Regions from separate parts of the Homo sapiens genome. Here region 2 is reported to be linked to region 1. Evidence: microRNA targets listed by miRTarBase, many of them from high-throughput screens and not tested one by one. Region 1 holds a microRNA gene; the other region holds the end of a gene's coding sequence.

What was found. The annotated mature microRNA hsa-miR-4761-5p reads ACAAGGUGUGCAUGCCUGACC and lies in region 1 at 1,228-1,248, shown strand. An mRNA with a match to its seed (bases 2 to 7 or 8) in the 3' UTR can be bound and repressed. Matches are read on the target gene's strand: a 7mer-m8 pairs with bases 2 to 8, a 7mer-A1 pairs with bases 2 to 7 and ends in A, and an 8mer does both.
Region 2: the mRNA of TRDN is a reported target of hsa-miR-4761-5p. Seed matches in the 3' UTR shown: 7mer-A1 at 2,104-2,110.

The regions. Positions count from the first base shown.
Region 1 is chr22:19,962,528-19,965,527 of GRCh38, forward strand. MIR4761 (microRNA 4761) reads left to right here and starts at 1,226; the gene lies at 1,226-1,307. It overlaps COMT (catechol-O-methyltransferase), which reads left to right. Exons shown (of 6, transcript NM_000754.4): 3 at 1-288; 4 at 1,039-1,232; 5 at 1,641-1,772. It also overlaps a transcript of ARVCF not described here. RefSeq lists enhancers at 1-282, 283-998, 999-1,714.
Region 2 is chr6:123,215,854-123,218,853 of GRCh38, reverse strand. TRDN (triadin) reads left to right here. Exons shown (of 41, transcript NM_006073.4): 41 at 114-2,515. The coding sequence ends at 253. Among named protein-coding and RNA genes, the nearest start is that of CLVS2, 220 kb to the right of the region's middle.

The DNA.
Region 1 (3,000 bases):
TGCCGGAGGCCCCGCCTCTGCTGTTGGCAGCTGTGTTGCTGGGCCTGGTGCTGCTGGTGGTGCTGCTGCTGCTTCTGAGGCACTGGGGCTGGGGCCTGTGCCTTATCGGCTGGAACGAGTTCATCCTGCAGCCCATCCACAACCTGCTCATGGGTGACACCAAGGAGCAGCGCATCCTGAACCACGTGCTGCAGCATGCGGAGCCCGGGAACGCACAGAGCGTGCTGGAGGCCATTGACACCTACTGCGAGCAGAAGGAGTGGGCCATGAACGTGGGCGACAAGAAAGGTGGGGTCCGGGCCAGCAGGTGCTCAGCTCTGGGACAGGGACCCAGGACCAGGCATCAAAGCCCTTACAGGAGAAGCTGTTATCACCCCATTTCCAGGGGGCTGGGAACCCTGGGATATGCCCAGATAGGGCTGGGGGGCTCCTCTGGAGTCCCAGGGTGCCAGGGTCCCTGATGACCCCTGCAGGCCCTGCTGCCTGCTGCCCCAGGACAACAGGCCCCCACACTCACAGGGTCTGACGGTGGTGCAGTTCCCCTTGAACTCTGTTCTGGCCACCATGGGACCTGCCTGGGGACCAGTCAGACAGGTTCTCCTGGGCCCGCCTCCCGCTTGAACTTCAGCCTGGGGCACAGGATGTGTTACCGGGCTCACGGAGTGACTCAGGGAACTAGTGCCGCCCCAGGGCCCCAAGGTGGGCGGTTCGGTGATTCAGAGAGGGCAGCTCTGTGTTAGGACACACTGGGGCCAGCCAGGAAGGGTGGAAAAGATAGGGACCAGCGTGAGCATAGAGGCTAAGGGACCATGGGAGCTCCAAGCGCGCTCACAGTGGGGACCAGGTCCTGGGGGCTGGGGACACCAGGGAGGTGAAATACCCCTCCAGCGGGTAGGGAGGGTGGGCAGAGGAGGGCCAGCGGCCAGGCATTTGGGAGGGGCTCCTGCTCTTTGGGAGAGGTGGGGGGCCGTGCCTGGGGATCCAAGTTCCCCTCTCTCCACCTGTGCTCACCTCTCCTCCGTCCCCAACCCTGCACAGGCAAGATCGTGGACGCCGTGATTCAGGAGCACCAGCCCTCCGTGCTGCTGGAGCTGGGGGCCTACTGTGGCTACTCAGCTGTGCGCATGGCCCGCCTGCTGTCACCAGGGGCGAGGCTCATCACCATCGAGATCAACCCCGACTGTGCCGCCATCACCCAGCGGATGGTGGATTTCGCTGGCGTGAAGGACAAGGTGTGCATGCCTGACCCGTTGTCAGACCTGGAAAAAGGGCCGGCTGTGGGCAGGGAGGGCATGCGCACTTTGTCCTCCCCACCAGGTGTTCACACCACGTTCACTGAAAACCCACTATCACCAGGCCCCTCAGTGCTTCCCAGCCTGGGGCTGAGGAAAGACCCCCCCAGCAGCTCAGTGAGGGTCTCACAGCTCTGGGTAAACTGCCAAGGTGGCACCAGGAGGGGCAGGGACAGAGTGGGGCCTTGTCATCCCAGAACCCTAAAGAAAACTGATGAATGCTTGTATGGGTGTGTAAAGATGGCCTCCTGTCTGTGTGGGCGTGGGCACTGACAGGCGCTGTTGTATAGGTGTGTAGGGATGGCCTCCTGTCTGTGAGGACGTGGGCACTGACAGGCGCTGTTCCAGGTCACCCTTGTGGTTGGAGCGTCCCAGGACATCATCCCCCAGCTGAAGAAGAAGTATGATGTGGACACACTGGACATGGTCTTCCTCGACCACTGGAAGGACCGGTACCTGCCGGACACGCTTCTCTTGGAGGTGAGCCCCAACCAGGATGGCATCCGTGCCAGCTGCTGCCCAGAGCCCATTCAGTCAGCCTCAGCCTCTCCAAAGAGCCAGGCATTCCAGTAGAGCCCTGTGTGGACACAGCTCGCTCTGGAGGCACCACCTGAGGTCTGGGAGTGTGGGGGACTGAGGAGGCCCTGTGGTGGGTGGAGATGGGTGGGGAGCTGGGCCAGGGGCCTGGCTGGGTGGCCTGTTGGGAACTGGGGAGCCAGCTGCCTGTGCAGGTGCAAAATGGGTGGCAGAAGTGGGGTGCACACCCCAGACCAGACACCAGGGCAGAAACGGCACAGGACCAAGGAGATGGGGTGGGGAAGGGCCGCTCTGGGCCCAGCCTGCTCTCCCCCAAGCAAGCCACTGCTCGTGCAAAGAAAGCATGTGTCTCCTGCAGATCTTCCTCCTGAGGCCCCATCTTGTGCATTCCCCCAACCCAGCCCCACTGGCGAGGACCCTGAGTGCCCCGAGTGAGGCTAGACAGCGGGTGGGGCTGTCCTCGCTTCCCTGGGGGGCGTGGGGCACTGGTGGCCCTTCACAGACTGATGCTTAAGGAGCCTCACATCAGTGACACACTGCCCCATCCCTCCCTGGTGGTCAGCGACACTGAGTGGCTCTGTGATCCTCCACTGGGCTTGGGACACCCACCCTCACGGCCTCCCCACCTGGTGCTCGCTCACCTGCAGCTCTCCCAGAAACTGGACACTGCTGTTAGCAGCCGGACTAGGAGCACGAGGGGCACAGCCCCCATGCCTGGCTAGGTAGGGCCGCTGGACCCTGGACACGGATTGGAAGGAACCAGCACTAGCAGAAGCCTGAGGTGTGAAAGGGCAGAGAATGTTCCAGGAACAATGGGAGTCAGGGCACACAGGACTTTGGGCAGGTGAGGATGAGGTTAGACCTGTCTTCTGGAGCTGGGCTCAGGGGCTCATGCCTGTAACCCTTGCACTTTGGGAGGCTACGGCAGGAGGAGCGCTTGAGGCCAGGAGAGTTCGAGACCAGCCTGGGCAACATGGCAAAAGAAAAAATATATATATATATTTTAGATGGAGTCTTGCTCTGTCACCAGGCTGGAGTGCAGTGGCACGATCACGGCTCACTGCAACCTCCACCTCTTGGGTTCAAGCGATTACCCTGCCTTAGCCTCCTGAGTAGCTGGGACTACAGGCGCGCGCTGCCACACCCGGCTAGTTTTTTGTAGTTTAGTAGA
Region 2 (3,000 bases), not on the chromosome of region 1:
TACGGAGGCTGCTGGCAGAATCTGTGACCTTATCTGCTGCACTGCACTGCCTCACTGTGCTTTTTTGCTCATGTTCTGCATGTTTTAACAAACTGTCATGCTCTGTTCCTTAGGTCCCATCAGTTTCTTCCAGTGTGTCTACTTGGATGGGTACAATGGCTATGGATTTCAGTTTCCTTTCACTCCTGCAGACCGCCCTGGAGAGAGCTCTGGTCAAGCAAATTCTCCAGGACAGAAGCAACAAGGACAGTAAACACACATGTATGACCCTTACAAGTGCTTTAAGATTTTAAAAATGTGATGTTTTGTCCACAGTAGTTCAGGCAATTAAGAATATGCAACCCAGAGAATTTCTGTGAAAACATTTTGCTCTTTGGCCTGGTGTGGACGGAAAGGGTGGCCAAATGGATTGAGTGATGAGCAGACATGTTTAAGGGTCTAAGTCTCAAGAATCTGTTATGTGTGTTTGCTGCGGTGGGAGGGGGTGCTTGTATTTATCTTATTTCCAGTCACTATAAGGTTGTACACAAACTAATTTAAAGTTTACTTAATAATGGTATCTTTAAAATAATTGACACAATTGCAAAATGAATTCCTGGCTTCAGTTAGCTATTATTTTTTTAATGACAACATAGACTGTGCTCTAAGTTTAAAAGATGGGGAAGCTTATATAAAAGTGACCCTTTTGCATCATATGGGTATCTAAACTTAATTTACCCAATAAGTTGATGCTTAATGATTTTATTTTATTTTTGTCTATTTCTATTTTAGTTGTGGCTTTGCTCTAAGAATGGGTAATAGTTGTACTACAGACTGCTATAAATTTCTTGTGATACTCTTTTAGAGCTCAAAATATCTCTGAGCTTTAGACATGGTAAGGTGGAGAGTAAATGCTTGATAAATCTTTAAGATATGTCTTGAATGATAATTAGGACATTCAGTCCAGTGGAAATACACCATTCAATTAGTCAGGTCTGGTGAATCGTTTGTTTAAAATATTAGCAAATGAGATGTGGAATTCTGAAATTTCTCCAGACTGTGTCTTAATAAAAATGTCACCTGGGTGAAATTTTAGATCAATCACTAAATTTGGGTGACAAATATAAAAATATTTTCATTTCACTTTAATACATTCTTTCTGTGAAGTAAAATGTTTTTCTTTCTCATAATGGCAAAATATGAATGCCATCAAAGTTTAAGGAATTCATTTTAGCCTTAAATGCCTTCGTGAGATGTCTTACTTGTATTTTAGGTAACTGGTCATCAGTGCCAATGACATGGATAACAATTTTTAATCTACTCGACAGTGCATCCCTGGGAATGACTGTTATGTTTTTGTCATATTCCTGGTAATATAAATACTCGTGTTCTTTACTACATTGTTTTTATCAACTCTAAAAGTCATGCCTCTGTGACCTTTATCATGTTTACAATTGCAACTGAACTTATGACAAATTAACTCAGGAAATAAATTGAGTTATCCTTTCTAGCATTGTAATTACCATCAGCAAGGCCTGAGATAGCCAGAGCCAATACTAGCCAAGTGATTTATTTTCAAGGATTGCCACTAACTACGGTTCTTTAGGACCAAGATATAAAACAGTCACTAAAAATCATTAGGCTAGGTATCAGTAATACATTCATTACTAATAATGCATTTTTGGAGACTTTTGTGAAAGAAGTTGGTCTCTGCCAAAAGCTGGTGGACCACATTCACACCACGAAAGCCAGTGTCACATGAACCAGATTAATGACTCTCTTTATGGGGTATGTGGGACATCCTGGAAGTGTATAATTTCAGGAATGACCAGACAATACCATCTTGCAAAGCCCCTTCAGGTGACAATCTAAACTTGTGGGTAGGAGAGTGCATAAAGTTTATTGCTCAACTGCTCCTCCAGCCTGCTGAATTTACTGAGTAAAGAAATAGCAAATATGATAGATGTTTTAGATTTCATAGAACAGAATGGTTTGTCCATTAATTCTTTCATTCAATGACTGTTTATTGAATACCTACTCTTTTAGGGCGCTGTGTTAGGTGCTGTATTGTACAAGAAAAATATAATAAATTAGATTCCCAGCGCTATTCTGACATAGTGAATGACCTTGAAAAATTTACTAAACATACTATGTTTGTTTCTCCATGAGTAAAATAGGGATATAGGGACAAACAGTCTAATATCTCATAGAAATACCATGGAGACAAATAAAATATTTTAATATAAATATGATATTAAAGTAAATTTCTGAAGTAATACTTTTGGGTATGGCACTAGTTTTTCCTCTGACTATTTTACTGTTTCTTTCACTCTCAATATAAAAACTATTTGATAAGATAAAACGATATATTTTATTGTAATTAGAATTTAGACAAATCAGCTATAATGTAAAAATGTTAATAATAATTACGTTTTATCTGATTAAAGTTACAATGATCATAGCACTTTAAAAATATTATCTGAACTGTCATTTGTTTATATATTACCGTCTAATAAAATAGTTATAGATCTTCCAAGTTTGATGCCTTACATTTTAAAAGGAAAAGATAAATGGTTGATTAAGAATCTTTGTCTTTAATGGTTCATTCATAATTCAAGTTATACTGGCCAGGAATATGTAAGCATTTCATAATTGTTTTAGTTATTTTGCACAATTGGTACACACTACTCCCATTACATCCCTGCGTTTACCCACCCTTCATCCCCTCTTAATAGATAAAGATCTGAAAATAAGAATCGATTTTTCCTTAGGTTTTTGATTTATATTTAGTTTTCCTAAAGCCTGATAAATCATTATTCAAATGGGGCAAGTGTTTTTTTGTTTCTTTTTTTTTTTTAATGAACCCTAGCAAAAGCACCTGTATGTTGACTCATTCTGGCATATCTTTTCAAAACCTTTTAACTTCTTGCAGAAATATTTTAGAAACTGGTATTGTGATACTGTGTATTTTAGAGATTTAACTTGTACCCTTGAGTAATTTTTCTGGAGAAAAAAGCAAAG